Linked DNA regions of Homo sapiens. The protein of the gene in region 1 interacts with the protein of each later gene in a pairwise test. Each region holds a gene or a part of one and is shown in the gene's direction. Other genes may lie near its edges.

The links.
Region 2: the proteins of SLC30A8 (region 1) and TMEM52B interact in binary tests that used the Homo sapiens proteins (3 or more experiments, as listed by UniProt).
Region 3: the proteins of SLC30A8 (region 1) and HSD17B11 interact in binary tests that used the Homo sapiens proteins (3 or more experiments, as listed by UniProt).
Region 4: the proteins of SLC30A8 (region 1) and ZFYVE27 interact in binary tests that used the Homo sapiens proteins (3 or more experiments, as listed by UniProt).
Region 5: the proteins of SLC30A8 (region 1) and THAP4 interact in binary tests that used the Homo sapiens proteins (3 or more experiments, as listed by UniProt).
Region 6: the proteins of SLC30A8 (region 1) and ARL8B interact in binary tests that used the Homo sapiens proteins (3 or more experiments, as listed by UniProt).
Region 7: the proteins of SLC30A8 (region 1) and PGRMC2 interact in binary tests that used the Homo sapiens proteins (3 or more experiments, as listed by UniProt).

The regions. Positions count from the first base shown.
Region 1 is NC_000008.11:117,133,265-117,138,054, forward strand, and holds the start of SLC30A8 (proton-coupled zinc antiporter SLC30A8), read left to right. Parts: upstream 1-1,730; 5' UTR 1,731-2,063; coding exon 2,064-2,134; intron 2,135-4,790. UniProt on the Homo sapiens protein: Proton-coupled zinc ion antiporter mediating the entry of zinc into the lumen of pancreatic beta cell secretory granules, thereby regulating insulin secretion.
Region 2 is NC_000012.12:10,181,441-10,185,756, forward strand, and holds part of TMEM52B (transmembrane protein 52B isoform 2 precursor), read left to right. Parts: intron 1-1,109; coding exon 1,110-1,153; intron 1,154-3,889; coding exon 3,890-3,928; intron 3,929-4,316.
Region 3 is NC_000004.12:87,383,873-87,388,188, reverse strand, and holds part of HSD17B11 (estradiol 17-beta-dehydrogenase 11 precursor), read left to right. Parts: intron 1-4,316. UniProt on the Homo sapiens protein: Can convert androstan-3-alpha,17-beta-diol (3-alpha-diol) to androsterone in vitro, suggesting that it may participate in androgen metabolism during steroidogenesis.
Region 4 is NC_000010.11:97,746,799-97,751,114, forward strand, and holds part of ZFYVE27 (protrudin), read left to right. Parts: intron 1-1,470; coding exon 1,471-1,566; intron 1,567-2,675; coding exon 2,676-2,788; intron 2,789-3,532; coding exon 3,533-3,672; intron 3,673-4,316. UniProt on the Homo sapiens protein: Key regulator of RAB11-dependent vesicular trafficking during neurite extension through polarized membrane transport. Promotes axonal elongation and contributes to the establishment of neuronal cell polarity.
Region 5 is NC_000002.12:241,609,123-241,613,438, reverse strand, and holds part of THAP4 (peroxynitrite isomerase THAP4), read left to right. Parts: intron 1-4,316. UniProt on the Homo sapiens protein: Heme-binding protein able to scavenge peroxynitrite and to protect free L-tyrosine against peroxynitrite-mediated nitration, by acting as a peroxynitrite isomerase that converts peroxynitrite to nitrate.
Region 6 is NC_000003.12:5,169,976-5,174,291, forward strand, and holds part of ARL8B (ADP-ribosylation factor-like protein 8B), read left to right. Parts: intron 1-527; coding exon 528-608; intron 609-2,174; coding exon 2,175-2,248; intron 2,249-2,671; coding exon 2,672-2,765; intron 2,766-4,041; coding exon 4,042-4,109; intron 4,110-4,316. UniProt on the Homo sapiens protein: Small GTPase which cycles between active GTP-bound and inactive GDP-bound states.
Region 7 is NC_000004.12:128,273,743-128,278,058, reverse strand, and holds part of PGRMC2 (membrane-associated progesterone receptor component 2), read left to right. Parts: intron 1-4,316. UniProt on the Homo sapiens protein: Required for the maintenance of uterine histoarchitecture and normal female reproductive lifespan. May serve as a universal non-classical progesterone receptor in the uterus.

The DNA.
Region 1 (4,790 bases):
TCTTTTCCCATCTTCACTTTTCCCTGTCCTACATCAACCCCATCCTACTCTCACTTTATTCTTGCCCCATAGGCAATCCACATTAACTACCTGGCATGTATCCTTCACACTCATTATAAATTATATGTCAATTATGTATGTATGTATGTCAATTATAAATAGATCTGTACATCCGTATTTGTACTAGAGGCAAAGTTCGCATGGAGGAATCTCAAACTTCCAGATTGTTTATTTCCTGTTGATATCTATAGCCAAATATTCTCCTTCCTGATTTGAAAATATTGCTTATCTCTTTTTTTTGTACTCACCCTTAATGAATTTCAGGCTGATTTAAAGTAGTTTCCTCATTTTCTGACATTCATTCACTTGAATTCTATTTCTCTTGTCTGTGCTAGAAACTATTCACAAATGATTCAAGCTGTGACATATGGCAGTGTGTCACACAGGTGGATTAGTAATTCTTTTCTGGTTTTCTACTTTCGCCTCCACAGAATAACTGATTACTTTGTAAGGTTAAGAGTAAGAATATACGAGAAAAAATACATTGGTTTTTATTCTGCTAACAGTAGACCCAGGATTTCAATGCCTTCACTTGCAAGGAAAAGGCTCCCCCAGAGCCTCTTAGAGGCTCCAAACTGTGTGAGCAAAGTTAAGGATCAGTAAGAGTGGGGTCATATGAGAAGACCTTAGAATTTATGTTATAGATGAGAGTGTTTGAAATCTTAAGATAATAAGAGGTACAGCTACACCACAGATGTGATAGGAGACCTAATAGTCTCATTCTGAACCAAAGGTGACTTCTCCTGTCACTGCCTATGACAATTGGCATTGAACCCCATCCTCCTTTTAGAGCACAATATTCATTTTATTAGGCCATTGTGAGAGATCTCAGCTCAGCATAATGGGCAACTTCCCGTGACTCTGGGCCACTGGGTTATTCTGGGACTTAACTACTCTGAGTTTTCTCACTAGAAAGTTAGTGTTCACACAAGGAAAAGGCAACAAGAACCTGGTGGTCTGGGGTTTACTCCTGTTCTCCAGTCTGCACAACCCCCTCTTTCTCTACCGTTGTGTACATCTTTATAGGTCTTGAAACCTTTTGCCCACACACAAATGCCTACTGTTTGTCCAGGCTCTTGCCATAAGGCTATAGTTCTTTCTCTTATTTGGGAAGGAAAGTGCTTTGTATGAAGTAAAATGCTGATTCCTAGGAGTTGAGGAGTGTGAGGTCTCCCAGGAGCAACTCAGAGGCTTCCTTCCTCGGAGCTGGAACTGGCATGCCTGATAGGGTTTCCTTGGGTGAATCCTTGATCCTTAGTAGAGGGTACCTTGGCCAGGAAGAACAAAGCTCACTCTGGTTCTTGTATTTTGGAGGGCTGTTATTTACGTAGAAGCAGAGTCTGTCCTTCTCTTGCCAATCAAAAGGATTTCAAAGCTGCTGTACCAAGAACTGTTTTCAGATTACTGGTTTCAGAAACTATTGACCCTTGTCCTCCCTTTCAATAGTGAAATCCCAAAATGGTCCTAGGAGAGACAAGTAAATTCTGACAGCTGCTTAGAGGTCATCTTAGAACTAAATTCCAAAGAAATAATTTTAGGCTGATAAAGAGTCCAGAAAAAGGAGGAGGGAGAGAAAAAGAAAGAATTAGTTTAGTGTAGCGAATGGTAGCTATTTGCAGCTCACCCACGTGTGCTCCGAAGGTCAAAACCCTACATCAGCAATTTGTAGCAAGCTCTTGAGCTCCTCTACCTCTTAGAAAGCACAATTGAATCAGATATCATATGAAAGACATACACACTTCATGTAATGCTACCTGCAAGTCTCCCTAGAAAAGCAGTTTTTGTAGGTGAAAACAATGAAGCCAGGTAATATTGCAAGGAGGCTGTAATTTTAGCAGACCTACCAACAACACTGATGTAGGAAGCTCATTATTTTAATTTCTGGAGCCTTTTAATTTTTTCTTTAGAAAGTGTATAAATAATTGCAGTGCTGCTTTGCTTCCAAAACTGGGCAGTGAGTTCAACAACAACGACAACAACAGCCGCAGCTCATCCTGGCCGTCATGGAGTTTCTTGAAAGAACGTATCTTGTGAATGATAAAGCTGCCAAGATGTATGCTTTCACACTAGAAAGGTAATAGATGTCTGTGTCTGCTTCACAATTTTCTCTGTTGAATATCATCCAATTCCTATACCTTGTTGCTTCTGAATTGTAGGCCTTTACTCTGCAACTTGGGGGCACTCTGGAACATTTTATAAGTTGTTGACTGACATGTATTTTATATTCTGAAAAATGCAATACTTTATATAGTTGATTTGATTCCTTAAATATCCTAAGTGCATAAAGAACACATTTTACTGATGTGTTTTTCATCTGTCATGTTTATTCCAGAAAATAGACCTATATAATCTGTTTACTTTTCCTTTTCTCAATTATTCTCAATTTTAAGATAGATAGTAAATTTTATTATATTATATTTAGAAAAAGTTAAGACTTCAGCTACATGGCAAAATTGTGGTTGTATTGATCTTAAAATGAGCTGTTGTTTTCATGCTTATAAAGTATCATTATTAATATACATACCTATAACAAATATAGCTGATTTTAATGTTCTACAAAGTATTCCATTTCTTTTTAATGTCTCCCACAGTGTCACATGCAATACATTCATTCATTTTTCACTTGGTTAACAATTATTGATTGAACACACCTGTAGTAAGTGCAGAACTTATAATGAGAAAGAAAAAAATGTCTAGTTTCAGATCTTTGTCCTCTTGAAACTTAGTCTAATGTGAAATACATATTAGAACTAGGCAATTACAAAACAGTGTATTTGTGTCATATTGAGGGTGTTCAATAAGAATAACTGGACTTTGGAATCAGAGGAAGCTTTCTCAGAAGTAATAGGCTAAGAGCTAAAAATAAAAAGGAATTAAAGTAGGGTTAGGGATAACCTACATAGAAAATAGTTTTAAGGAAAGTTTCCCAGACTTCGATAATTGCACAGTAAATATACTTTCACATACATAAGAATGTGAGCTTGGTTTGTTTGAGGAGTTGAATCTGAATGGGGTTCAAAAAAGGAACACATTCAGTGAATATAAATGAGCTAATGAAAATCTGAAAAGAATTGATGTTAGAAGAAGAATTTAAGAGAATACTTGCCCATTAATAATACGTGTAATGTTCTTGTTTGTTTCACAAAGCCAAACTAATATTCTAAGGAGTAGTGATACTATGTTTGGGAGCATCAAATATTTTAGTAACAGCAAAGAGATTTTATAAAAAGGATATTTATAACTTGGCTTAAAACAAAGAATCTAGCAATCTCACATTAGAAGAATTATTTTTCTTAGAAAATAATATTAGATATGATGTATTGAGGTTATTAACATAAAAAACAAAGCCTTGTGGTAAGTCAGGCAGAAGTTTTGGACAAAAAATTGTTAACCCTATGGATACTATCAATAGAGCATCTCCACATTACTGAAATAACAATATTTCCCTTCTTATTAACATAGACTATTAGCATTTTGTTGCACAAATAAGCCAACCACTTATAGTTACAAAGTCTCATTCACCCCATAAATAGGTATGGTTTTCAGGACACAGTGTTTATAAGAATTGTCAAACTCATTTGTATTTTCTTGTCAAGGGAAATAAATTAAATCTGGAAGAGATTATTTATCTCGATCCCTCATTTTACCATGTAGGAAACTGAATGCCAGATAGAACAAATGCCTTTCTTGAGGTCAGAATAAATGTGTTTCTTGAGGGCAGATGGCTAATTACAACAGAACTGGGCTGTGGACCCAGGCCCCCTTCTTGTTAATTTAGTGTTCCCCTTCTCCGTCTACATCTCCTGTACCCATACATGCACCATGTGGGCTCCTGAATCCTTAATCTATCTCCTCCTTAGGTCACATGTCCCTGAATTCCCTCACTTACTCACTTCTTCCCCCACCTCTACCAATCTATCTCATTTATTTTGTTCTGTCTCTATTAGTTGTGGATAACTTTATCCCCTGATATTCCTCCTCTTTTCTCCTTCTACCTCTTTTTCTTTCTACTTTCTATTATCAGCTTTCTATTTAAATGGTTACTGGCTGTTAAGAAACTTACTCTGAAGAAAACTTTATTATCTAATTCCACAAATGGAGTGTTCCATTTATCTATGGCTGTGCAACAAACTACCCCAAGATGTAGTGGCTTAAACAACAACTATTTTATTACGATTCTCTGGGTCAGGATTTGGGCAGCATTCCATGTGAATTAGTTGGAATAGAAGGCTGCATTCTGCTGGTATCTGGGCTAGGCTAGAAGGTTTAAGATGGCTTCACTCACATGACTGAGATCTTTGTGTTGGCTTTTGCCTGGGGCGGGGGTCTTAATTCTTCTTCCCATGGCTTCTCTCCCTGTATGATGTCTCACTTTATCTGGTTAGCCTGGAATTCCTTATGTGACAGTCCAGAGTAGCAAGAGAGCAATAGTGGAAGCTGACCATTCTCAGATAGCTTAAGCCCAGAACTGGCACAGTATCATTTTTATCACAATTTATGGGTTAAAGCAAGTCCCAAGTCTCAGATTCCATGGGTGAGGCAATAGATTCTATCTCTTGATTGCATGTGCATATTGGATGACAGGAATTGCTGGAGGTAATCTTTACAGGCATTTTACCACAGGAAGTAGTAATATTGGACCCAGTAGGTGCCATGAACCATATTTTTTTACCCTCTCCATTCTCTCCAAATCTGTTTCATTGGTGGGATTCTCTGGGCTTTGGGTTCAT
Region 2 (4,316 bases), on another chromosome or scaffold:
TGCCTCAACCTCCAGAGTAGCTGGGATTACAGGCGCACATCACCACGCCGGGCTAATTTTTGTATTTTTCGTAGAGACGGGATTTCACCATGTTGGCCAGGCTGGTCTCGAACTCCTGACCTCATGATCTGCCCACCTTGGCCTCCCAAAGTGCTGGGATTACAGGCGTGAGCCACCACGCCTGGCCTGGTCACATTACTTAAAACCCTGTGCCTTAGTCCCTTAACCTTTCAAGATAAGGTTAAATATACCCACCAAGAGGGTTATTGTGATTAAATGTTATGAAATATTAAGAGTTCATGGCCGGGCGCGGTGGCTCACACCTGTAATCCCAACAGCACTTTGGGAGGCGGAGGTGGGTGGGTCACTTGAGGTCAGGTGTTCGAGACTAGCCTGGCCAACATGGTGAAACCCTGTGTCTACTAAAAATACAAAAATTAACCAGGCGTGGTGGCACGTGCCTGTAGTCCCAGCTACTCGGGAGGCTGAGGCAGGAGAATTGCTTGAACCCGGGAGGTAGAGGTTGCAGTGAGCCAAGATCACGCCACTGCACTCCAGCCTGGGTGACAGAGCAAGACTCAAAAAAAAAAAAAAAAAAAACAAAAAAAAAAAACTTGTTAGCAGTCTGAGTGGCATCTAGTAGCTATTCGATAAATAAGACTCTCTGTCCCACTGGCCCCCTCGCTTTTCCCCTTCTTCCTTTGTATAGTCATTGTCACACTAACAGGATAAAAAAAGAGCAGTGGTGTAGAATTCAACTGGGCAGGAATTAGGAGGACAATGGCAATATCCCAAGGGACAGAGAGATCAGGAATTTTCTACTACAAACAAATTAATGTAAATGGCTACCTCTCATTCACAAAGGGTGATGCTCACCCACCATCAACACAACAGATGAGATATTTGTTCTTCAAGGTTCCCTTACCTCAAGTACAAAAGCCAGCAAGTATGGGAGAGATGAAAATGGCAGTCCTAAATAGACTGCCCCTATGACCGTGACCTTCTTACTGCTTGATCTAACACAGCACAACCATGAGAGATGATTGGTAAGCAGCTGAACACAGTGGCCAAAACAATTTCCCTGTATAAGACAATTTCTCTTTCTACAGCTTTCTGGGACGAGATGTGAGGAAAACTGTGGTAATCCTGAACAGTAAGTATAGAGTTCAAGCTGGGAGGAAGGAGCAACAGACCAAAACATCACTACCCCAAAAGAGAGTCAAGATGTCATTAGACATCTATGACTTCTTTTTATTTATTTTTACTTAAGTAATAGATCTCATAGATGACTTATCACAAAATAAAGACGTGTTTTTGTCATCTTAAGCACTCAAAATAACACTGCTGACAGCATGTTTTTACCCAAAGCCAATCTTCCCATCAAAGCAGCACGATTAATCTCAACTTATACAGTCATAGAGACTTGCAAAAGACTTCCTTAGCCCTGCTCCTCAGTGACTCACCAGGACAGACGGTTTAGTATCTAGTCACTGGCATATATATTTGGGTGATTTCCAAAGTAACATTATTACTTTAAATTGGGAAAGTATTTTCTAGTTTTTAGGGCATGTTAACATTTATTGGGCAGACTTCATTTAGCTATCACTTTGATGTAGTTATCAACTAATCCAAACCTGTCACACTTAAGTCTTATGTAGACACAGAGGACATGAAGATAAAAATGCAAAAGAATCATTCCACTTAAAGGAACTGTAAAATACAAATTTTAAAAAGTAGTGGCACTTTGAATAAAAACGTGTTTAGGATGAAGAAAAATACATATTTAGCCATGGGAAGGGTTTCCCAATAGCCAGGTCTGTTAAACCCAGGGAAAGGGTGATAGCCTTGATTACCTGTCACATGCAAATTGGGTGTTGACTACTTGACACCTGCTTTCTGAGGTTTTACACATCTTCCACCATAGGAAGAGTCCTTTCCTATAAACCAGAGTCTAATTAGAACTAGAAGAGTTTTCAACAAGTAAGAAATGTGGGAAAACCAAGAGGAGTCATTGTTCAGTGAAAAACAAAACAAAACTATATTTTCTATAAATGTGTGACCAGAGAATAAAAATAGATTCACTAGATTTCAGTAGATTCCTGTATCAGAAAGAATTATTAAATAACAAAATTTACTACTCTTCAAAGATACACAAATATTTTGCCTCCCCTCATTCTCCAATTCCTGAACTTATCTTCTCCTTCTCCCATACAATCCCTATTTTTTTTTCATTCTTACAGAGAAAATTTACAATTGCCATAGTGAACTCAGAACATTATTTAGCTTTCATCATGGTAAAGTTGGCTTCTACTTTTTTCCCTCTTCCTGTTTGGTCTCAGTGGATATGCAAATTAGTTTTGATCCTGGATGTGAAAAATTAGGGTACTCTTTACGGTGGGTGTGATATTGTGAGAATATATATTTGGTTTTGTCCCTATCTCCTAGCATACAACTTCTAAAATCCCCAAAGTAAGTAGCATCATTTTGCATGCTAATGAGTTGATTGGTGGCTGGCAGCCCCTAGGTAGATTTAGGATGGGGCTGGTCATTGGAAGGACCAATGCAGAATGCTTAAAGCCTCACCCCTCAACATCCAAGGAAAGTAGAGGGGCTGAAGTTTAAGTTGATCATCAATGGCCAATGATTTAATCAATCACGCCTACATAATGAGGCTTTCATGAAAATCCCAAAGGATGGATTTGAAGAGTTTCTGTAAAGCTGAACAGGCAGTGGTTTCTGAAGGGTGGTGCACTCGGAAGACCTGCAAGCTCCGTGCCCCTTCCCACATGCTTTGCTCTACGCATCTCTTCATCCGCATCCTCGGTAATATTCTTTGTAATAAACTGTAGATGTAAGTAAGTGTTTCCCGGAGTTCTGTGAGCTGCTCTAACAAATTAACGCAACCTCAAGAGGGAGTCAGGGAACCCCCAATTTATAACCAGTAGGTCAGAAGCACAGGCAAAACAAATTGTGATTGGCATCAGAATTCTGGGGAGCCGTCTAGGGGACTGAGTCCTCACCCTATGGGATCGGATCCTATCTCCAAGCAGGTGGTGTTGGCATTGAATTGAATTAGAGGACGCTCAGCTGTTGTCTGTTGCTGGAAGATTGCTTGCCTGGTGTGTGCGGAAATCCTCACCCACCCACATCTGGTGTCAGAGGGTTGGGAGAGTATAGCAGGAAGAAACTAAGTTTTTTTTTTCCTACATTCTCAGTGGGAGTGTTGCAACAGCTTGCAAAAGATAAATTACAAATGTGATTGTATGACTTTCATACTCATAACTGAAATTTTCTTTATGTTTACATTTTATTGACCTCAAATATACACAAGCCTTAAGTTTCACATCCATTTTCAAAGTTACTCTTTGTAAACTTGCATTCCAAGTTCTTTCTTAGTATTTTTTTTTTCTTTTTGAGATGGCGTCACCACGGCCGGCTAATTTTTGTATTTTTAGTAGAGATGGGGTTTCACTATGTTGGCCAGGCTGGTCTCCAACTCCTGACCTCGTGATCTGCCAGCCTTAGCCTCCCAAAGTGCTGGGATTACAGGCATGAGGCACCGCACCTGGCCCTTTCTTGGTCATTTTTATCATAAATGTTTGCAATAGGCACAGACATGTTTTCTATGGACACTTCTAATGATCACTAGTTTGTTTTATAATGATTTACAAAATGACTCAGACAATGCCATCTATAGTATAAAGTACTATTTAAAGCATATCATTTGGCAAAAGATTCAACTAGCTACAGTGAATTTTAAAAACATAACCCATGGTGCTTTATTTATAACAAGGTATCACATCATATTGTAACTCATATTTCTGAGTCTGGAGTTATAACAGGGATTGACTATATTTTTAATGTAGAAAACTTTATTCTTTCTTTATAGTTGCCTGACCACAGACTGGGTACATCTCTGGTATATATGGTAAGTTTCACTTATAATACCCAGAAAGACACTGTATTCCTCAAGGCCATTAAAAATGACAACCTGCCTACTTACTTAGCATCTCATGGAGTAAGATTTCATTACTTCATCACTACCTATGTGACAATATGTCAGGATTTCCTTTTTCAATACCATCTCCTCCGCAAACATCAAACCATTACTGTGTCCTTCCCTCGGAGTCTGTTCTAGAAATATCTCAACGAAGATTACTTTAGTGAATTAAAAAGCAGAGCCTGGCCGGGCGTGGTGGCTCACACCTGTAATCCCAACACTTTGGGAGGCTGAGGCAGGCAGATCACTTTGAGGCCAGGAGTTCGAGACCAGCCTGAGCAAAATAAAGAAACCCCCATCTCTATTAAAAATACAA
Region 3 (4,316 bases), on another chromosome or scaffold:
CTAGATTGTTTTTTTTTTTTTTGGTGTGACTACTAGAAAGATTAAAATTATATACATGGCTTGCGTTATATTTCTATGAGACAGTACCGGTGTAGAGATTTAAAGGGCTGGAGCTACAGATGATAAAATTTCCTGTATTTTGGCTTTTTACTCTGGGGAGTCAATGAAGGGTTTTGAGGGTAATTCCTATTGAAGAGGATCCTCCAGCTGCTGGGCTTAGGAGAGATGTAAGAGGAGAAAAGATGGAAGGAACAAGTAAAGTAAGAGACTACTGTGATAATCCAGGCATGAGATGAAATGATGGGGACTATTGAACCGGGTTGGCAGTAGCAGAGATTCGGAGTAATGGTCAGAAAAATTGAGGACAATGTAGTGAGTTTTTATTAGGTTAAATTAGTTTAATTTAAATAATCTATATTTTATTTTGAGATTATATCCTTCCTACTTTTTGTGGGTAAAAAATATATTTGTTAATGAAATTACATGATAACATATGAGGGTCATTTTGTTAGTTTTGAGTGTCCTTATTTGGCCAAAAGTTTGGCAATCCTAGTTCGGTATACACATCCCACTCTATTTTTCTTGCCGTTTTATAGATTTGAAATTATAGAAGGCTGAGAACCACTAAACCTGATTGGGAAAGGACAGGGTGGGGATTTGGAGCAGTCCAGGTAGCAGAAACTGGAGATGTGAAGCTCTTGGGCTGGTGAATACCTGGAGAATGAGGAAGAAAGTGGAGTGGTGTTTGATTGTTATGAGATCTAGCTGGCAGGGCAGGGAGGGGCCAAACGGAGGGCCCTTTCACCTAGAGTACAAAGACAATCTCTTAGATTCATCCATGTAATGAGGACAGCAGTGTCCACATGTACCATATGTTAATTTAGGGAAGAATTAATGGTGGTGTCAGCTTTGTTGTTCCACTAAGCCTGATAATGGGAATTATTCATTCTGCTTTGTGATAATCTATCACTTCTTGACTATTCTCATTCCCATGCTTGGTTAGAATAGTTTGTAGCCAGGCATGGTGGCATGCTTCAGTAGCCCCAGCTACTCAGGAGGCTGAAGCAGCAAGATTGCTTGAGGCCGGGAGTTCTGGACTGTGGTGCGCTCTGCATGTCTGCATAAGTTCAGAATCAATATGGTACCTTCTGGCGGTGGGCATGAAGGAGACCAAGTTGTCTAAGGAGGGGTGAACCAGCCAGGTTGGAAACGGAACAGGTCAGAGCTCTGGTGCTGTTCAGTAGTGGGATCATGCCTGTGAATAGCCACTGCACTCAACCTGCGCAACAGGGAGACCCTTTTTCCTAAAATACTAGTTTGGAAAGAAAAATTTACAGTAAGTGGTGAGCATATAATATATGCTCAAAGACTATTTGTTGAATGAAAAACTGAATTAATGAATAACTGAAAGAATAATGGGCATAATTTAAAAAGTTTTTCAATTTTTAGTAATCAAGGTAATGGGTGTAAAGGTCTTAGTTGTACCAATAGACAAACATATTTGAAAAAAGTTACCAAGGGAAATCTTGAAGAGTTATGAGCAATTGTACTGTGCTGCAAAACATTTTAAAGGAAGAATTCATTTTTTTTTTGAAGATCTGCTTATTTTTTATTTCTTACCAACTATCTACAGGGCACTGTCCGGAATTTTTTCTGGAGGAATTTAGAACTTAAATTTGTTGCACCGGCCGGGTGCAGTGGCTCACCCCTGTAATCCCAGCACTTTGGGAGGCCGAGATGGGAGGATCACTTGAGGCCAGGGGTTCAAGGCCAGCCTGGGCAACATGGTGAAACCCCGTTTCTCCTAAAAATATAAAAATTAGACGGGTGTGGTGGCGCATGCCTGTAATCCCAGCTACTAGGGAGGCTGAGGCAGGAGAATCACTTGAACCGGGAAGGCAGAGGCTACAGTGAGCTAAGATTGCACCATTGCACTCCAGGCTGGGTGACAGAGCGAGACTCCATCTCAGAAAAAAAAAAAAAAGTTTCACAATTCAGAAGGTGTGGAAAGCAGACCAACCTAAATGAGGAAGACCAAGGAAACAGGGCAAAAGTGAGACAGCGGATGTGAAAGAAGGGTATCTTTGCATCCATATAGTGGAGTGGTGGTTAGTTGCTTGGTGGTTACAGAAAGCCAACCAGTAATAAGCAAATCTCTGAAAACAGAATAAATGGGACATAAATTTTTATTGTAAAATTTGTTCATGTAAGGAAATATATTTGTTCAAAAAAGAGAAGACCCAATCAATACAATATACTTTTTTTTTTTTTTTTGAGATAGAGTCTCGCACTGTTGCCCGGACTGGTGTGCGGTGGCAAAATCTTGGCTTGCTGCAACCTCTGCCTCCCGGATTCAAGTGATTCTCCTGCCTCAGCCTCCCAAGTAGCTAGGATTACAGGTGCCCACCACCACACCCAGCTAATTTTTTATATTTTTAGTAGAGGCAGGGTTTCACTATATTGGCCAGGCTATTCCCAGAATCCTGACCTTGTGATCTGCCCACCTCAGCCTCCCAAAGTGCTGGGATTACAGGTGTAAGCCACCGCACCTGGCCAATACAATATACTTTTAAAAAACTTTTTAAAATATGGTAAAATATATGACATAACACACCATTTTAACCATTTCTGAGTGTACAGTTTAGTGGCATTAAGTACATTTACCTTATTATGCAGTGATCTCTTCTATTTCTCTCCAGAAATTTTTCATCTTCCCAAGATGAAAATCTGTACCCATTAAAACAATATATCTCCCCAGCCCTCTCTCTCCCCAGGTCCTGGCAACAACCATTCTATTTTCTGTCTCTATGAATATGATACTCTGGGTACTGCATATAAGTACATTCATATGGTATTTGTTTTTTGTGTCTGGCTTATTTCATTTGGCATAATGAAGGTTGTACGTGTAGCATGTGTCAGAAATTCATTTCTTTTTAAGGCTGAATAATATTCTATCCTATGTGTATACAACATTAATATACTTGTAAAAGGAAATGCCAAAAGCTGCTGGTTAAGTATAGGAGAGCAAAATAAAGTTTACCTGAGATGTTGATGTCCCTTGAGGAATAAGAGTTCCTCATGAGAGTATACTACAGTTTGTGAGGGAGATTTCAGTAAAAGAAAAATATTGTGGGAACCTGCCCCCAATATTTCAATGTAGCTTCTTTCTATTTTCCATAAGTGTCAGCCGGCTGAGAAATAAAGAGAGACAGTATAAAGAGAAATTTTACAACTGGGCCGCTGGGGGTGACATCACGTATCATGATGCCCCTGAGCCTCAAAACCAGCAAGTTTTTATTAAGAGTTTCAAAAGGGGTGGGGGTGTAAGAACAGGGAGTAGGTACAAAGATCACATGCTTCAAAGGGCAAAAAGCAGAACTACTGATAAGGGTCTATGTTCAGTGGTGCACATATTGTCTTGATAAACATCTTAAACAACAGAAAACAGGGTTCGAGAGCAGAGAACCGGTCTGACCACAGATTTACCAGGGCAAAGTTTTTCCCCACCCTAATAAGCCTGATAGTACTGCAGGAGACCAGGGCGTATCTCAGTCCTTACCTCAACCACATAGGACGGACATTCCCAGAGCAGCCATTTATAGACCTCCCCGTAGGAATGCATTCCTTTCCCAAGGTATTAATGTTAATATTCCTTGCTAGGAAAAGAATTTAGCAATATCTCTCCTACTTGCACATCCGTTTATAGGCTGTCTGCAAGAAGAAAAATATGGCTCTTTTTTGCCCGACCCCACAGGCAGTCAGACCTTATGGTTGTCTTCCCTTGTTCCCTAAAAATCACTGTTATTCTGTTCTTTTTCAAGGTGCACTGATTTCATATTGTTCAAACACACATGTTTTACAATCAATTTGTACAGTTAACACAATTATCACAGTGGTCCTGAGGTGACGTACATCCTCAGCTTATGAAGATAACAGGATTAAGAGATTACAGGCATAAGAAATTATAAAAGTATTATTTGGGCACTGATAAATGTCCATATTAAAATGAAATCTTCACAATTTATGTTCTTTGCCGCGGCTCCAGCCGGTCCCTCCATTCGGGGTCCCTGACTTCCCACAGGAGAAAAAGAACTTGTTTCCCTTTATTATCATAACAGTTTCACTATGCAAGCTACTAATTCTCCCCACAGCTGTCCAGATTTGGCCTTTCCAACATTAGTTGCCATTTACAAATGTGTACACTGATTCACCATCCTCTCTGTGGATAAATGTATGAGTCCTCCTAGGGTCTGCCCATTAGTGCATTAGTTGACAATTATTAGGTTGATGCAAAAGTAATTGCAGTTTTTGTCATT
Region 4 (4,316 bases), on another chromosome or scaffold:
TCTGCCTCAGCCTCCTGAGTAGCTGGGACCACAGGCACATGCACCATACCCTGCTAATTAAAACAATTTTTTTGTAGAGATAGGGTCTCATTGTCTTGCCCAGGCTGGCCTTGAATTCCTGGGCTCTAGCAATCCTCCTGCTTCAGCCTCCCAAAGTGCTGGGACTACAGGTGTGAGCCAGTGTGGGTGTCCTAATAAAGTTCTTTGTATCAGTTTCCCTGATCTGGGATCCAATTCAGGATTATACATCATGTTTAATTTTTTTATGTCTCTTTAGTCTTCTTTAATCTGGAGCAGTTCCTCAGTCCTTGTTTCTTGTGACCTTGACATTTTTGAATAGTACAAGCTTATTATTTTGTAGAATCTCCCTAATTTTTGGATTGTTTGGTTCCTTGTGATCAGATTTAGAGTGTGACAAGTGATGTGTCATGTTCAGTACATCCGTATCAGGAGGCACCTGATGTCAGGAAATACTGACTTTGATCACTTGGTTAAGGCATCCATACTGTAAATTATCATTTTACTCTTCATTAGTAGTAATTTGAGGGGAGATACTTTGAGACTATGTAAATATCTTGTTCCTCATCAAACATTTATCCACTGCTTTAAAAATCCATTGATGGGTCTTGCCTTAATCAGTTTATTACTATGATGGTTGCAAAGATGATCTTCTAATTATTCTATCGACATTTTTTTAGCTGGCTTTCTACTATAAGGAAGCTCTTTCTTACTATTATCAGTATGAACTCATAGATTTATATTTTATTTGATGAGTTAGAATCTATTACTATCATTATTTATTTTGATCTCAAATTGTCCTAGATTTGGCCAGTAGGAGCTCTTTTGAGTTGGCTCTTGTTTGCATTGGTCCCTGTCATTTTTGAATGCTTCCTTTATGGTACAACAGGATGGTCAAATTCATCTTATACTTCCCTGCCCCAGCCCTGGAATCAGCTTATCTCCATGTTTCCTGGTTTCCCTTCAGAAACCCAGATCTGGGTTCAGATTGTGCTCATGGCTTCTGTGGTTCATCCATGTTTAAAAAAACAACAACCAGAACTCCCCAAGTGAGTCTGTTTCACATCCCAGGTAGAGAATATCATGCCATTTATTCTGACAGCTGCTGTGTACCCGTGAGGTGGGTCCTCTGATCCTCATTTTATAGATAAAGAAGCCACAGCCCTGGAGAATTTCAGTAGCCTGCCTGACATCAACAGTTAGAAGACCAAAGCAGGAACATTTATACTGTTTCCACCTCAGCAAGAGGCTCCAAAAAGGGGACTGAAATGTAGCTGGGGTGGCTTAGCCAGGCCTGTTTCTCCCATGCTCTCTCGACTCCTCTCTCTTTAAGCACATGGTGAGTGTGTTTAAAGAGATTGACCATCCCTAGCCAACTGTACCTGCAAGGCCCCAGGCTCCACTTCCCAGGGCTTCTGTCCTGCCCACTCACCAAAGCCCCTGTGTCTGTAGCTTGATCCAGCTGGAGGCCTTCCTGAGCCGCCTGTGCTGCACATGTGAAGCCGCCTACCGCGTGCTGCACTGGGAGAACCCCGTCGTGTCCTCACAGTGAGTGACCCCTCCTCTCCCGCCACCACCCTATAGGAATTTGCAGCTTGAGCCCGAGCAAAGCCAGCTGCCTTGAGAGGACCTCTGCCCCTCTTACCTCAGGGGAAGAGCTCGCCTCCTGGGCTCTTGTGTGTATATCTGCACATATGCTTGCGGGCTCTAATGTACTGCTTTTGTTTAGATGCTTGCTTTTATGTGTGGTAAAAATAATAATAGAAAAATAACTCACCATATAATCCACCATGCAGCCGAATCTCTTGTTTGTTTTGCCTGCTAGAATTTGTCACATGCATCTACTTTACGGATGTATAGTTTCATAGTGTATGTTCAATTTTTCTTTTGTTTTCCACTTATCATTATATTAAAGATGATTTTCTTTGTTGCTATATAGCTTTTGGAATTATTTATAATACCAGATTAATATAGATGGCAAATATAATTTGTGAAACCATTCTGTTACAGATTTAGTCAATTTCCCTTTTCATTACTAACCCCATGGTAAACATTTTTATGGATTTAGCTTTAATGTTTTAGAAAATTTTTCTTGGAGTAAATTCAAGGATGAAACTACCATATCAAACAGAATGGGTGTTTTTGAGGCTCTTTAATATGAATAATAGTGATAACTAATGTTTGTTGTGTTCACCTGGTGCCAGGCACTGCTCAACACTCCCTCTGTATTATCTCACTCTTATAGTAACTCTATTAGGTAGGCGCTACTTCAGTCCCCATCTTACACGGGAAGGGAGCTGTGCCCAGAGAACCAAGAGACTTCTCAGAATGAGAAGTGGCAGAGCTGGATTCAAATCCCAGTCTGTCTTACTCTAGACTTCAGAGTCTAGACCTTAAGGAGTGATGATGGTTGAACCAGTTTATGTGCCACCAGCTGACACCACTTTGGCCTCACCAGCATCAGGTGTTTGCACCGGTGACTTGGGATAGTTCTCAGTCTTCATCGCCATTTTCCGCTGGTTTGATGAGCGGCTCTTGTCAGTTTATTAATGTGCCCAGAGCTGTGTCTCACCTGGACCCTGCTGTGGGTGTGCTCCAAACCCGTCTCCTTCTGCTGTTACGAATTTCTGATCTTGTGGTTCTTCCCTGTCATCCAGGTTCTATGGGGCTCTTCTGGGCACAGTCTGCATGCTGTATTTGCTGCCACTCTGCTGGGTTCTCACCCTTTTAAACAGCACGCTCTTTCTGGGGAATGTGGAGTTCTTCCGAGGTAAGCCCTGAAGGGCCTGAAAGATGGGGCCCAAGCTGGCTCTGAGGGCTAGGCTAGGCTCCCCAGTTCTTCTGTCTCTACAGCTAATCATCAGTTTGCTGTGCTTCCACAAGTGCAACACCACACTGGGGTCCTCTCTCATGGGCTCTGCATCTCTGAGATGTTAGATGAAGCTGGAATCTCACCAGGGGAGGCTGCTACCATTGGGCTCCCATCTCCCTTCGCTCCCTTCCCAAGGCAGATGAATCACTGCTTATATGATATGATGGCTTCTGGAAGATGAGGGAAGGATGTTTTTCCCAAAGCTGCCACCCATCCCCTGGGGTGCAGCCACCTGGAGTTGCTACCACATCTCTGTGTGATCCCAGAATACCCCTCTGTTGTCTGGCTTCTAAAGCGCTGAGGCAGTCTGGAGAGGCACTGAGTCGCAGAGGCCCGAGTCTGTACATATGTTTGGGTGATTGCTGTATTTGTTTTCCTCCCTGTGGTAGAGTTATTTATTACAGAAGCCATGATTTATTGAGCATTTACTACATTTAATCTCTGTAGCTGTCTGGGGCAGGTGGTGGTATCTAAGTTTTGTTTAAGAGGCTTAAGTTAGGTGACTCGCTCAGAGTTAGGAGGGTGACTCTTTCCTGTAGTGAAGGGAAGAGAGGCCAGCCAGCTGCAGAAGTGGGTACCCCTAAAGTGCCACTCACGGTGTCTCATTTTTGCCTCCTACCTTGTTCTCCATTCCCTGGGTAGTTGTGTCTGAGTACAGGGCATCTCTGCAGCAGAGGATGAACCCAAAGCAGGAAGAGCATGCCTTTGAGAGTCCTCCACCACCAGATGTTGGGGGGAAGGATGGTCTGATGGACAGCACGCCTGCCCTCACACCCACGGAGGTAAGTGCCACTGTCAGGGCAGAGCCTGCTGTGGCCGCTTGTGGGCCCCCCTGTTATCAGCTTGTTTTTGGCTCCTGGGCTGGCCTCTGTTGTAGTTCCTGCTATTTCCCAGGCCTTAACTCCCCTGAAGTGTTCAATAATAATAATTGTAATAAAAACAGCTACTCCATGCTTCACTGAGTGCTTACCCTGTGTCAGATGCTGCTCCAAGTGCTTTATAGATAGATATTCACATCATGGAGTGCAGGTTCTTTCTTTCCTTTTCTTTTTTTTTTTTCCTTTTTTTTTGAGATAAGGCCTCCCTCTGTCACCCAGGCTAGAGGGCAGTGGGGCAATCACAGCTCACTACAACCTCCATCTCCTGGGCTCAGGCAGTCCTCCCACCTCAGCCTCTTGGGTAGCTGGGACTGCAGGCAGGTGCCACCACGCCCAGCTAATTTTTTTGTATTTTTAGTAAAGATGAGGTTTTGCCATGTTGCCCAGGCTGGTCTCAAACTCCTGGGCTCAAGTGATGTGCCTGCCTCGGCCTCCCAAAGTGCTGGGATTACAGGCGTGAGCCACTGCACCAGGCTGGTTATTTCTGAGAAAGAGATCATTCTCATTTGTGGAAGAGAAGGCTGAGGCACAGAGTGGCTGGTAAGTGG
Region 5 (4,316 bases), on another chromosome or scaffold:
CATTTGTAAGCCTCTGTGGTGTCAGCTCTCAGGGACAAGACCAGTGGGGAGTTCTGCCCCTTCAAGGGTCCTATGAGTTGAGTGTCATGCCTGTACGACCAGGCATCTACCACCTATAACCAGTTTTTTTTTGTTGTTTCTATAACCGCTTTTTTTTTTTTTTTGGCTTAGTACATTCAGTGTTTACGGAGGTTTCTTTCCGCATCATTTCCCTATTGTCTCCTGATGACATCCAGCTGCTGGTAATGTCCTCAGGGAGAAGACATAGAAACAAAGCTCCTTGGGTGCCAAGGGTTGAAAACTCCATTCCTGCACTGTCGAAAAGGTCTAGAGAGTGAGTCTCTTATGTAGTTTAATATTTTCTAATAGCTACATTAAAAAGGTAAAAAGAAACAAGTGAAATCGATTTTAATAATATATTTTATTTAACCCGATATTATCTAAAAATTATTTCAACAGGCAACCACCCATACTATAAGATTATTGAATTATTTGAAGACTTTTTGGACTGAGTTTTCGGAATCTAGTTTGTAGCTCGCACTCACTGCACGTGTCAGTGAGCCAGCTCACGCGCCTGCAATCTGGAAGGATCGCTGTGGCCAGCCGTAGCATCCTTGCCACTCACCTTCCCTCCTCATGCGCCTTCTACGTGTGACTCTAGCGTCTTCTGCCACAGAACGCAGCTGTGGAGAAACACTGACCCACGTTCTGTCTCTGTAGATGTGTGTGTTCTGCACCTTTCACAGAAATGGAATTGCAGAATATGTGCTCTTTTGAGCCTGATTGCTTTCATATGGTGTGTTGTCAAGGGCCATTTGAATTGCAGCTTATATTAGTGCTTCATTTTTATGGCCAAATAACATTCCATTGTCTGGATATACTGCAGTTTGTTTACTCATTGGTTGACGGACATCTGTGTTGTTTCCACTTTGGGGCTGTTGGGAATGGTGCTGCTGTAAACATTCATGGGCAGCGTCCTGTGGGGACAGGTGTGTCATTTCTGCTGGGAGTGCATGTCTCCAGGAGTGGCAGTCCTGGGCCACTGCTCCACACTTAACCTCTCAGGCACATGCCAGATGGTCTTCACTAGGCTGTGCCAGTTCACGTCCCCATCAGCAGTGTGCCAGGCGTTCCCGTCCTTCTAACTTTGTTTCCATTTCTCTATCTTTTGTCTTTTTTTTTAACTCATTTCTGTCCTCTGTGTTCCGCTGTGTTTCCCGGTGTTTGTTTCTCCCTGTGCTGCTTCCAATCTCCACTTCATTTGGGTGGTGGCTTGATTTTTTTTCTTTTACTTTCTCGACTTCTGCCAGGTCATGTTTCACCTTCTCCTCTTTCCTTGCCGTTTCTCTCCTGAGTTCTTACATGTTTAGTTAGTGGTCTTTCTTCATGGAGCAGCTTCATTCAACTACTCGGGAGGCTGAGGCGGGAGAATCACTTGAGCCCCAGTGGTCTAGGCCGCAGTGAACCGTATTCATGCCACTGCACTCCAGCCTGGGTGACTGAGCAAGACCCTTTCTCTTAGTTTCACCTTTGCCCCATCAACATTTTGCAGTTTGTATGTTTTGCTGCTCTTGTTCACACTTGGTGTCTTGTCACCTTTTGTCCATCTCTGAACTCAGGCAGTGTCTTAGAGTCCATTAGTCCATTGCTGGAGAAGCAGAAGGTCTTCAGGAGCAGCATGCCTTTCTTTCTTAATTTTTTTTTTTTTTTTTTTGGAGACAGAGTCTCACCCTGTCACCCAGGCTGGAGTGCAGTGGCACAATCTCGGCTCACTGCAACCTGTGCCTCCGGGGTTCATGCCATTCTCCTGCCTCAGCCTCCCTAGTAGCTGGTACTACAGGCACCCGCCACCACGCCCGGCTAGTTTTTTATATTTTTAGTAGAGATGGGATTTCACCATGTTGGCCAGGCTGGTCTCGAACTCCTGACCTCAGATGATCCACCCGCCTTGGCCTCCCAAAGTGCTGGGATTATAGGCGTGAGCCACTGCGTCCAGCCGGCAGCACCCCTTTCTTTCGGAGTGGCGCATTACTTCTCTATGGCGGGTGGTGGGTAACCCTGCATGGAGGCCAGCCTGGGCCTTCAGCACCTGGGCGAACACCTGGGGTGTCCTGGGCAGACGCGTGGGGTGCCCTGGGCCTGCTGTTTGCAGGAGCTCCCTGTGGCAGAGCGGGGGCCAGAAGAGCCTCCAGGCTTCCCAAGTCCAGGGCTCCCCACTCCGCCCCAGGCCTCTGAGCCAGGCCAGACCCTGAGGCTTCTCAGGGGCCACCCCCCCAGCTCCCAGAGGCCCCTCCTGTCCTCCAGCGAGGCACTGACCCACCACTTCTCACAGCATCCGTATGTGTGTTTTGGTGGCTGTGGGTTGTATCTGTGACCTATTTTCCCTCAAAATCAAGTTCAGGGAAAAGGTTTTTTCGTTATTTTTGTTTTTTTTAATTCTTGGGAGGGAAGGTGATAATATTGTTACTTACCTGAGAGTCCCCCTCGGAGACCCCCAGAAGCTGGTTTTAAGGGAAGAAAGAGTAAGATCCCTTTCTGTGTCTCTGTCTCTGGCCCCGTCTCTGGCCCCATCCCCGTGTCTCTCTGGCCCTGTCTCTCTGTCTCTGTGTCTCTGTCCCCGTCCCGTCTCTCGCTGTCCCTGGCTCTGTCCGTCTTTCTTCCCCATTTAAGGAGCGCCTCCTCTCCGGTCCCCTCTGAGGAGCGCTGGATGGAGGACAGGGCCTCCCGGAGAGGACTCCACGGTGGGTGGTGGGAGGGAAAGACCAGGGGGAGGCAGAGGCTGCCGGTGAGAGGCGTCTGCCAAGTAGATGAGGGGCCGGGAGAAGACCCCGTGGCTGGGGAAGCAGGAGTGGGGAGGGCGGGGCCTCCGGGCCGAGGGGCGCGGTCGCTGTGGTCTGTGGAGGGGCTGGCGAGGCTCCCGCCTCTGCTCTTGCTGGAGCTCTTGAGTGAGCCCTGTGACGCCTGCTAGGTGAGGTGGCAGCCAGTGAGCGCGCCCCACCGCCCAGCGCCGCCCAGCCTCCGCCCTGACTCCTCTGCCGCTCCCCAAACAGGGCGCGGTGGCGTGACCCTGGCGCTGGGGGGCGAGCGCGGCCCTCCCGGTCCCGCAGGCGCAAGAGAGGGCGGAGATGCGGCGCCTGAGGCGGGGCTGCGCTTCCGGGGCGGGGCCGGCGGAGGCTGGAGGGGGCCGCCCGGGAGCAGAGGCAGGACTTGCGGCGCGTGCCCCTCACCCTAGCCCGGGGCTGTCCTGCCTCGTGGGGAGTGTGAAGGCCATGCCCGGCGCCGCGGCCCTGGTGCCCCTGTTCCACTGGGACCCTGGGGGGCGCCGCCAGGCCCCTTGGCCTCTTCCTCGGGGCCCTCGGGACCCAGGGGCCGGTGGTGGCCGTGCCGGGGACTCGGGCGTGAGGGGTGGAGATCGCGGCCCCGGTGCAGCAGCTCAGAACCTGGACTCTGGATCGCTGCTCCCCAGCGCCCGGGGTGCCGCTTCCCACAGGGTTCAGCTCCCATGCAGGCTGCGCTCACCAGTGGAAGTGGGTCCACCCGGTCCCAGGAGAGCCAGAGCCCCGTGGCAGTCGCTGTGGGGTGTGCTCCGCACAGGCCAGAGAGCCGGCCCAAAAACCTGAGGTTTGCAAAGCCTCTTTCTTTCTTTTTTTTTTTTTGAGAAAACGTCTCTGTCGCCCAGGCTGGAGAGCAGTGACACGACCTCGGCTCACTGCAACCTCCGCCTCCCGGGTTCAAGCAATTCTTGTACCTCAGCCTCCCGAGTAACTGGGATTACAGGCGTGTGCCACCACGCCCGGCTAATTTTTGTATTTTTAATAGAGACAGCGTTTCACCACGTTGGCCACGCTGGTCTCAAACTCCTGACCTGAGGTGATCTGCCCGTCTCGGCATCCCAAAGTGCTGGGATTACAGGTTCAGTGAGCCATTGCGCCCGGCCCAAAGCCTCTTTCTTTTCAGTGCTGAGCTGGATAAAGTCTACCAAACTGAAAGGTCTCCAAGGCTATAGCTGGCTGTCTGAGAAATTATGGTGTTTGTTTAGCCCATCTTAGGACTTGGGCTATCCCAGGTGACTGAGTTTTGCTGTTTCACACCTCCCAAGGTTCTTCTCATTCTTCCTTTTCTCCATTAATGGTAACTTGTCTTCTCAATTGCTCAGGCCAGAAACCTCCGTTACCATCTTTTCTTACGTGTTTCACATCCAAACCATCAGCACATCCGGGTGGCTCTGCCTTCAAGATAGATCCAGAAGCTAGGTCCTTTCCACTGCCTCCACCACGGCCACCTGGCCCAGGCCACCCTCCTCTGCCACAAGGGTT
Region 6 (4,316 bases), on another chromosome or scaffold:
AGCAGACAATACTCATGACATTGAGATAAGTAACCAAAAAGAGAACAAAATTGATTACATAAAAGGAAAAACTTCTGTATGACAAAATATTTTATAAGCCTTATTAAAAGACAGACTTGGAAATGCTGTTTAGCAGTGAATTTTAATAGTTACTGTCAGAATAATTTAAATGCTGAAAGTTTTATTTCTGATCTCATCTACTTTGTGGAAATGTACATCTAGGTGAACACATTTAAAAATTTTCGTATGTATTTGTCATATAAAATTCTTTTAGCATAAGGAAATATGTAAAAAATTACATTAGTTTCAAAAATATCTTTTTTAGATGGAAGAATATATCTTTGTTGGGACAAAATAATGCATCTCTTCAAGAATTATGGCCATAAGGAACATGTTCTTAAAGTAGATTGTTACCAATGGTAAAAAAATATTTACTAAAATGGTTACAAATGCAATGTTGATATTAGAAGTTTATGCAGTGTCATTATAAGTGAGTAGCCTAACTTCAAATGTTTTATTTTGTTCAGTCAGGTCAATTCAGTGAAGATATGATACCCACAGTGGGCTTCAACATGAGGAAGGTAACTAAAGGTAACGTCACAATAAAGGTAAGTTATTTCTTGCCGTACGCAATTTAAATTGTTAGCACAGACCCCTAGAAATTTTTCTGTTAAATTTCTGTGTTTTTACTGAAAATTTGCAGTTTTTCAGTAATGAATGTGCATGTTTCAAAAGAATAGGTTTTTTTGTTGTTGTTTTTTTGTTTTTTTTTTGGAAACAGAGTTTTGCTCTTTCACCCAGGCTGGAGTGCAGTGTCGCGATCTCCACTCACTGCAACCTCTACCTCCCGGTTCAAGTGATTCTCCTGCCTCAGCCTCCAAAATAGCTAAGATGACAGGCTTGTGCCACCACACCCAGCTAATTTTTTGTACTTTTAGTAGAGACAGGGTTTCACCATGTTGGTTAGGCTCGTCTCAACTCCTAACCTCAAATGATCTGCCTGCTACGGCCTCCCCAAAGTGCTGGGATTCCAGGCGTGAGCCACCACGCCTGGCCAAGAATAGATTTTTAATCTATTTTGTTTTTCAAAAATCAAATCTATGGCCTGAGCCTTAATGTCCATTTTGCCCAATTATTGTGGTTTACAGAAGCTGTTCACTTTCTCTGTGGCTCATCTAATGAAGTTCCAGATTTAGTCAAGTGCAGGTTTCTTTATGCTTGTTACCAGTGCTTTAGTTAAACCGGAAGCCTCTTGAAGATTAATACTGTGACTTGAGACTTTAATGTAGCCCAGTGTCTAGTGTGATGCCCTACGGAGTAGACACAATAATAAAATGATTATGGATGTGGCTTTCATGTGCATAAAATAATTTTATTTTATTTTATTTTTTTGAGATGGAGTTTCACTCTTGTTGCCCAGGCTTGGAGTGCAATGGTGTGATCTCGGCTCACTGCAACCTCCGACTCCCAGGTTCAAGTGGTTCTCCTGCCTCAGCCTCCCGAGTATATTACAGGCACCTGCCACCACACCTGGCTAATTTTTTGTATTTTTAGTAGAGATGAGGTTTCACTGTGTTGGCCAGGCTGGTCTCGAACTCCTGACCCCAAGTGATCCACCCGCCTCGGCCTCCCAAAGTGCTGGGATTATAGGTGTGAGCCACCATGCCTGACCAAAATAATTTTATACAAGAAAAACACCTATGTGGAAATGTTGGCTACTTATTTACAGGATAATTTCAAAAGGTTAGGCATTAATGTAGAACAAATCAGACGATTAAGACTTAATAGATTCTGAATTGTTGTTTTCTGTCTTGGCATTCAAATCTGGATGGTGCATGGTCCTGTAGCTTTTAAATTGTTATCATAAAGACATATGTTTTCAATAATAGAAGTATATTAGTTAACAGGCAAACTATTGCACATAAACCAAATCTTTGCTTAAGCAAAATTTTAGATGTATTGTAAATGTATTAAATACGGACTTCAAGTTTAGAAGTGGCCCCAAGAATTCCCATATTAAGAGCTTGTTTGAGGTCAAGTCTTTCAGGAGCACTTTGCCTCTAACATTGTAGAAATAAATATATCTTCCCGATCTTTCTTTTTTTCTGTTACTTCCTCTTGCAATCATTTAATTAAAATATCTTTATTAAGAATTGCCTTGTTTTGATTTAAAGATCTGGGACATAGGAGGACAACCCCGATTTCGAAGCATGTGGGAGCGGTATTGCAGAGGAGTCAATGCTATTGTGTAAGTGGTTTTTTTTTGTTTGTTTGCTTTTAAATCAATGTAGGCATCAAAGAAGAAAGTTTATTTTAGTATTTCCAGAGGCTCAATTTTTATCTCAGGCAGTGAAAATCTTTCTTAGCTAATATCCTAGTGTAATTCCCAACATGGGATTTAAAAAAAATTAATCATAGAATAAGATCTTTATGTTTTTTGTTTATGGAGCTAAGAGCTAAGGGGTGTACATGTTTTACTATCATGTATTAGTCTCTAAAAACAGTCTAGTTAAAAAGTATTAAAGGGTGCTGAGCCTTTTCTTATGACATAGTTTATTTTGGTTAATAATTTCAATAATGTAAATCTTACAAAAATTAAAAATCAATAATACTAGTTGTCATCATCAAGGCATACAGAGAAGGTATGTTGAGATCACTTCATTTTTTTAAGTTACATGATAGATGCTGCAGATCGTGAAAAGATAGAAGCTTCCCGAAATGAGCTACATAATCTTCTAGATAAACCACAGTTACAAGGAATTCCAGTAAGTATGGAATACTTGTTATTTTACATTGTAATTATATAATGATATTAATTATGGTAATTATGCAGTGATATTAATTATGTTTGAAATCAGTAACATGTCTTCATTTTTAAAATCTGGAAAACTTGCTTACCATGTATCTGCCATATACTGGGCATTGTGCTAAATATGAATCTCATAACCACGTATCTACTAAACTACTATGCAGCAGGAGCAGTGCGTAGGCCCAGGGATATAGTGATGAATGGAAATCAGTAGAAACATACTCCTTGCCATCATGGACCTTATGGTTTAGTGGGAAAGGTAGATACTCTGAAAACACTTGAATAATGCAGCTTTAAGTGCTAGGAAGAAAGGTGCAAGGGGATATGAGAGTTGTAATTTAGAGGGGAGATGTGATCTAGTTTGAGGGAAGAAGGAGGGATTCACGAGGAAGTAATGGTTGAGCTGAGATCCAAGGGATACATACAAATGTGAGGTATATGACAGTTGGAGGGGAAGAGAGTTCCAGGCAAAGGCCTTTGGGTGGGAGGAAGTGGGAAACTGAGAAGAGGCCAGTCTCTAGAATACATTTAGGAATTTGCATTTGGATTAGGAATGCTCAACCAGTAAGTATATAATGCAAATCCAAAAAATTTCCAAAATTCGAAACACTTCTGGTCCCAGGTATTTTGGATAAGGGATAGTAAACCTGTACTAAGAATAGCAGAATGCCGCCGGGCGCGGTGGCTCATGCCTGTAATCCCAGCACTTTGGGAGGCCGAGATGGGCGGATCACCAGGTCAGGAGATCGAGACCATCCTGGCTAACGCGGTGAAACCCCGTCTCTACTACAAAAAATCAGCTGGGCGTGGTGGTGGGCGCCTGTAGTCCCAGCTACGGCAGGAGAATGGCGTGAACCCGGGAGGCAGAGCTTGCAGTGAGCCCAGTGGCTGCTGCACTCCAGCCTGGGTGACAGAGCGAGACTCTGTCTCAAACAAACAAACAAACAAACAAACAAACAAAAAGAATAGCAGAATGTGTATCATAGACTCAGACTATTTTACATAGCAGTTGGCAGCCACATACTGAATTAAGAGCACCTGCATGGTGGGAGTTGAGTGAATACAAGTGTGAGCAATGAAATGAATGAGACAAGCCACCAGTTACACAAATAGGCCTTAACATTGTGGAATGTGTTAACATCTTAACTTTGTGTCTTCACATATCAAGATGATAAACTTCTGTGACTTTTTCTTGCATAAACGTGTGCTCTTAATATCTTTTCTTTTTAAAGGTGCTAGTGCTTGGAAACAAGAGAGATCTTCCTAATGCCTTGGATGAGAAACAGCTAATTGAAAAAATGTATGTCTTGAATATGCTATTTTAATAATTTGCTTCTAAATTACCATATTTTGCCCACTTGTTATGTTATTCCTAATGATCATAGCCATTTTTTTTAGGTAGATAAAAGTTGGCCTATCAGAGAAGTGAATCCTAACATTTTAGGATTGCTACGATGATTTCTTCAGTATAGTAATAAAACTAATGAGTAAAATTGAACAAAGTGAT
Region 7 (4,316 bases), on another chromosome or scaffold:
TAAGGCCATATGCTCAGTTCACAATGTTGCTGAGCGCTTTTGACAGTAGCTCAAATTTCAGAAGCAAGATTGCACTTTCAGTCACTTATAGAATCATACTATTCAAGAGATTATTTAGTTTGGTCTCAACTTCAGGCAGGTAAAATAATTTTCCTAATTTATATTTGAGGGATCTAAGGACTATGGAAATCGAGACTTGTTGATTGTGAGTGGATCCTCTAGAACCCAAGTATCTGTCTTCTTGAGAGGTATTATTTCAGTTTTACCATACTGCATTCTCTCTAAAAGTCTTGGGACTTACTGGACCTAAGCATAAAAAAATTTATTAGTTCAGTTAATCACTTTTACATATTGCCTCATTTGTTGATAGGCTGATTATAATCTTATTTGAAATAAATTACCCAATACTAAGTGTTATTAGTTACTCAATTTATAATCACAAAAGATTATTGTCAAAACAGGCCTGAAAACTGCACTGTTGATAAACTTTAATTAATTAAAGTTCATCTCTGAGAGATATGGTTTTTAAACTGTGAGAATAATTAAAATATCCCTTTAGAAACACTAAGGTAGCTATATAATCATCCTAATAATCACAAAATTATCTGTTACTACATATTTACTTCCTCCTGGAATTTTCTGTTTATTAAATTAATATTTAAAACATTTTACAATGAGCATATGTTGTTGCTGTTTCAAGAATATGTCACCTCATTCTAACTGATTGTATTAAAGTAAGCAGTTTTAGGATACGGTAACAAATAGGTTTATTGAACTTTAAAATATCTTGACCACAAGTTGGATTGACACTGAAAACTAAATGAAATCTGAATTCTGACTAGTATAGTACTTCATGTTGGGTTTGTTTTGTTTGTTTGTTTGTTTGTTTGTTTGTTTGTTTTGAGATGGAGTCTCGCTCTGTCGCCTAGGCTGGTGTGCAGTGGCGAGATCTCAGCTCACTGCAAGCTCTGCCTCCCAGGTTCACGCCATTCTCCTGCCTCAGCCTCCCAAGTAGCTGGGACTACAGGTGCCCACTACCATGCCCGACTAATTTTTTGTATTTTTTAGTAGATACTGGGTTTCACCACGTTGGCCAGGATGGTCACGATCTCCTGACCTCGTGATCCGCCTGCCTCTTGTTGGTATATTTAACAATAGCTTTGAAATAAAATTTATCTTTAAAATGATGTCCTTGAATATTTGTTATGTAAGTATATTTCAGAGTATTTGCTTTGACTGAATAATGCTGTTCATTTTTTGTAGCACGAATTTGCTTAAAATTGGGAGGCTGTTTTTGGATCAGCATTATATTTTAATATTTGATAAAGCAACAGAATTTAATTCTTCTAGTTACTACTGAACTGTTAGTGTCTAAATGAGCCTTAATAATAAAAAATAACCAGATCATGTAAACTAGCCTTTTTAAAAATAAATTAGGCTGGGCACAGTGGCTCATGCCTGTAATCCCAGCACTGTGGGAGGTTGAGGTAGGCGGATCACCTGAGGTCAGGAGTTCAAGACCAGCCTGTCCACCATATATGGTGAAACCCCCTCTCTACCAAAAATATAAAAATTAGCTGGGCGTGGTGCCACACCCAATAATCCCAGCTACTTGGGAGGCTGAGTGAGGCAGGAGAATCACTTAAACCTAGGAGGCAGAGGTTGCAGTGAGTTGAGATCACACCACAGAGTGTGACTCTGTCTCAAAAAAAAATACTAATACAAATAAATAAATTATACCATGCAACAGACTTAAACCATTTCAAATTGGCTTTATTTGGGGAGCTCCCTATTGTTTTAGTATTATGAATAGCCAAGTATACTTACCAAATATTAGAATTGGTAAATATTTAGGTTTTTTATGTAAGGGGATAACGGAATGGGAAGGTATTGCTGACTTTTCAGATAAGCTCCTGGTTGTATTATGAATGCAGGGAAATCTCCTTTTATTAGACATCAAATCCTTCCTCAGAATAACCCATCCAGTTCCAACTTTAGTTCCTAATGTTATATTCTTTAATGGCCTTACAGAAGGCTGGGCATGGTGGCTTAGGCCTGTAATTCTAACACTTTGGGAGGCAAAGGCAGGAGGATTGCTTGAGGCCAGGAGTTCAAGATCAGCTGGGCAACATAGGGAGACCTTGTCTCTACAAAAAATAAAAGAAATTATGCAGGCCTGGTGGGCCATGCTTCTAGTCCCAGCTATTTGGGAGGTTAGGGCAGGAGGATTACTTGAGCCCAGGAAGTAGAGGCCACAGTGAAATATGATTGAGCCGCTGTACTCCAGCCTGGGTGACAGAGTAAGACCCTGTCTCAAAAAACAACAAAAAAAATTTTTTTAATGGTCTTACAGGAAAGAGCATAGAAAATTATTACTAAAAAGACCTTTGCAGAAGTTAAATGCTTCCTGAGGGAAATTCTAAACATATGGAGAAGACAGCTTAATATAGTTTAGGGAGTGGGGGAATATGTTAATCACTGAATTATTCTTTTCTATTCAAGAGTCAACAGAACATCATTTGTCTGGAATTTGGCTTGGATTATTAACTGTTGACTCAAGTTCACTCTTACCAAGTCAATCATTCCCTACCCCCAGTACCCCAGAAAGAGCATATTTTATGAAATTTTTTATTATTATTATTCATTCAGTGTTGAAGCTTTCTTAGGGAAGTTGGTAGAGAAATTAATAGAGAATGCACTGGTATATATTAATATACTCAAAGATGGAGGGCTTTCTGATTGCTGTTTTTATAATGATTTTATCTTCTCTCCTTTGTATCATTTAAATGTGTTTTATGGCTTATACTCTGAAGTGCCTGAAGTAGATTAATGTTTGCAGGCCATGGAGATAAATACTATAATAGAATGCTTAGAAAAGCTATTAAGTAGAGCTTTTTTGTTAATTCTCTTCCATTTTGATTTAATAAGTATTCTAAAATTTTCATTCCCTTGAAATTTTGTAAGTAGTAAAATGCTCCAGTTTTCATGGTCGTTACTCCATCTTTGGGCTTGTGAGTCTTCTATGTGTTTTCTTGAGGTACACTGGAGGATTTAGGAAAGTGGAAATAGTACTCTCAGTTCTGTCAGTAATTTTAGGCAAATCACACTGAATGCCTCCGCTCCTGTTTTTTATCTGCCAAATGGGGAAGGCAGTCTGTCCCTTCCACTTTGGGAAACTCTGAGAGAGAAAAGTGAGGTTGCTGGAAAATTCTTTTAAAAATTGAACCTATAATTTTCCATTTGTAGATTGTTATGGCCTTTATTAGTTTTATTTTTCCTTTTGTATGTTTCACTTTTTGCTTTTTTAAGTTTATAAGCATTGGTCTAGTCAGCATTAAGGGTAAATATAATGTTTATAGATTTTTTTTATCATTGTTTCTTAGAAATTTTTATTTTTAAACACACTAGTTCTCTGTCTCTGTCTCTCTCCTTGTCCTCCTGAAAACACCCATTGCCACAAAGTGTGTAGAATTTTGCACGCACATGTGCATGTACACACACAGACATAACTGGTTAATACCTTTTTTTTTTTTTTTTTTTTTTCTTTGGAGAAGGAGTCTTGCTTTCTCGGCCAGGCCGTAGTGCAGTGGCATGATCTCAACTCACTGCAACCTCCGTCTCCTGGATTCAAGCAATTCTCCTGCCTCAGACTCCTGAGTAGCTGGGATTACAGGCGTGCGCCACCACAGCCGGCTAATTTTTGTAGTTTTAGTAGAGATGAGGTTTCACCATGTTGGCCAGGCTGGTCTCAAACTGCTGACCTCAACACTGCTGCCACAGAGTTGGGATTACAGGCATGAGCCACCGCACCTGGCCTGGTTAATACCCTTTTGAATGTCAGTTGAGATGATAGAAAAAGTTTGAAGGTTACGAATATTGGCCAGTGGTAAATTGTGTTCCATATTCTTATATAGAAGACACATTTGAAAGTATAAAATGGTAGCCTATGTTAATAAGACTGATTAAATAAATTACAGGTACACATCCATTCAGTGGGATAATATATAACCATTCAATGATAAATAATTGTTGATAGTCATGTGATACGATGTAGCAATATGGAAAATGCAATAAGAATAAGAAAAGCAGAATACAAATGTACTTTACTGGAACTGTTAGCTTTACTTTCATGTTACTGTATCAATACCTATGAATGCTACTCTTAAAATTATTGCTAATGCTACTTCTAGTTCCATGCAGTAAACTTTTCAGAGAATGAATTTCACATCTGGTTAACTTTATAGTACAGTGCTGTTAGCAACTCAAATTAATACTCATAAATGCTTAGATATCTATTTAAGTGAAACCTCGATTTC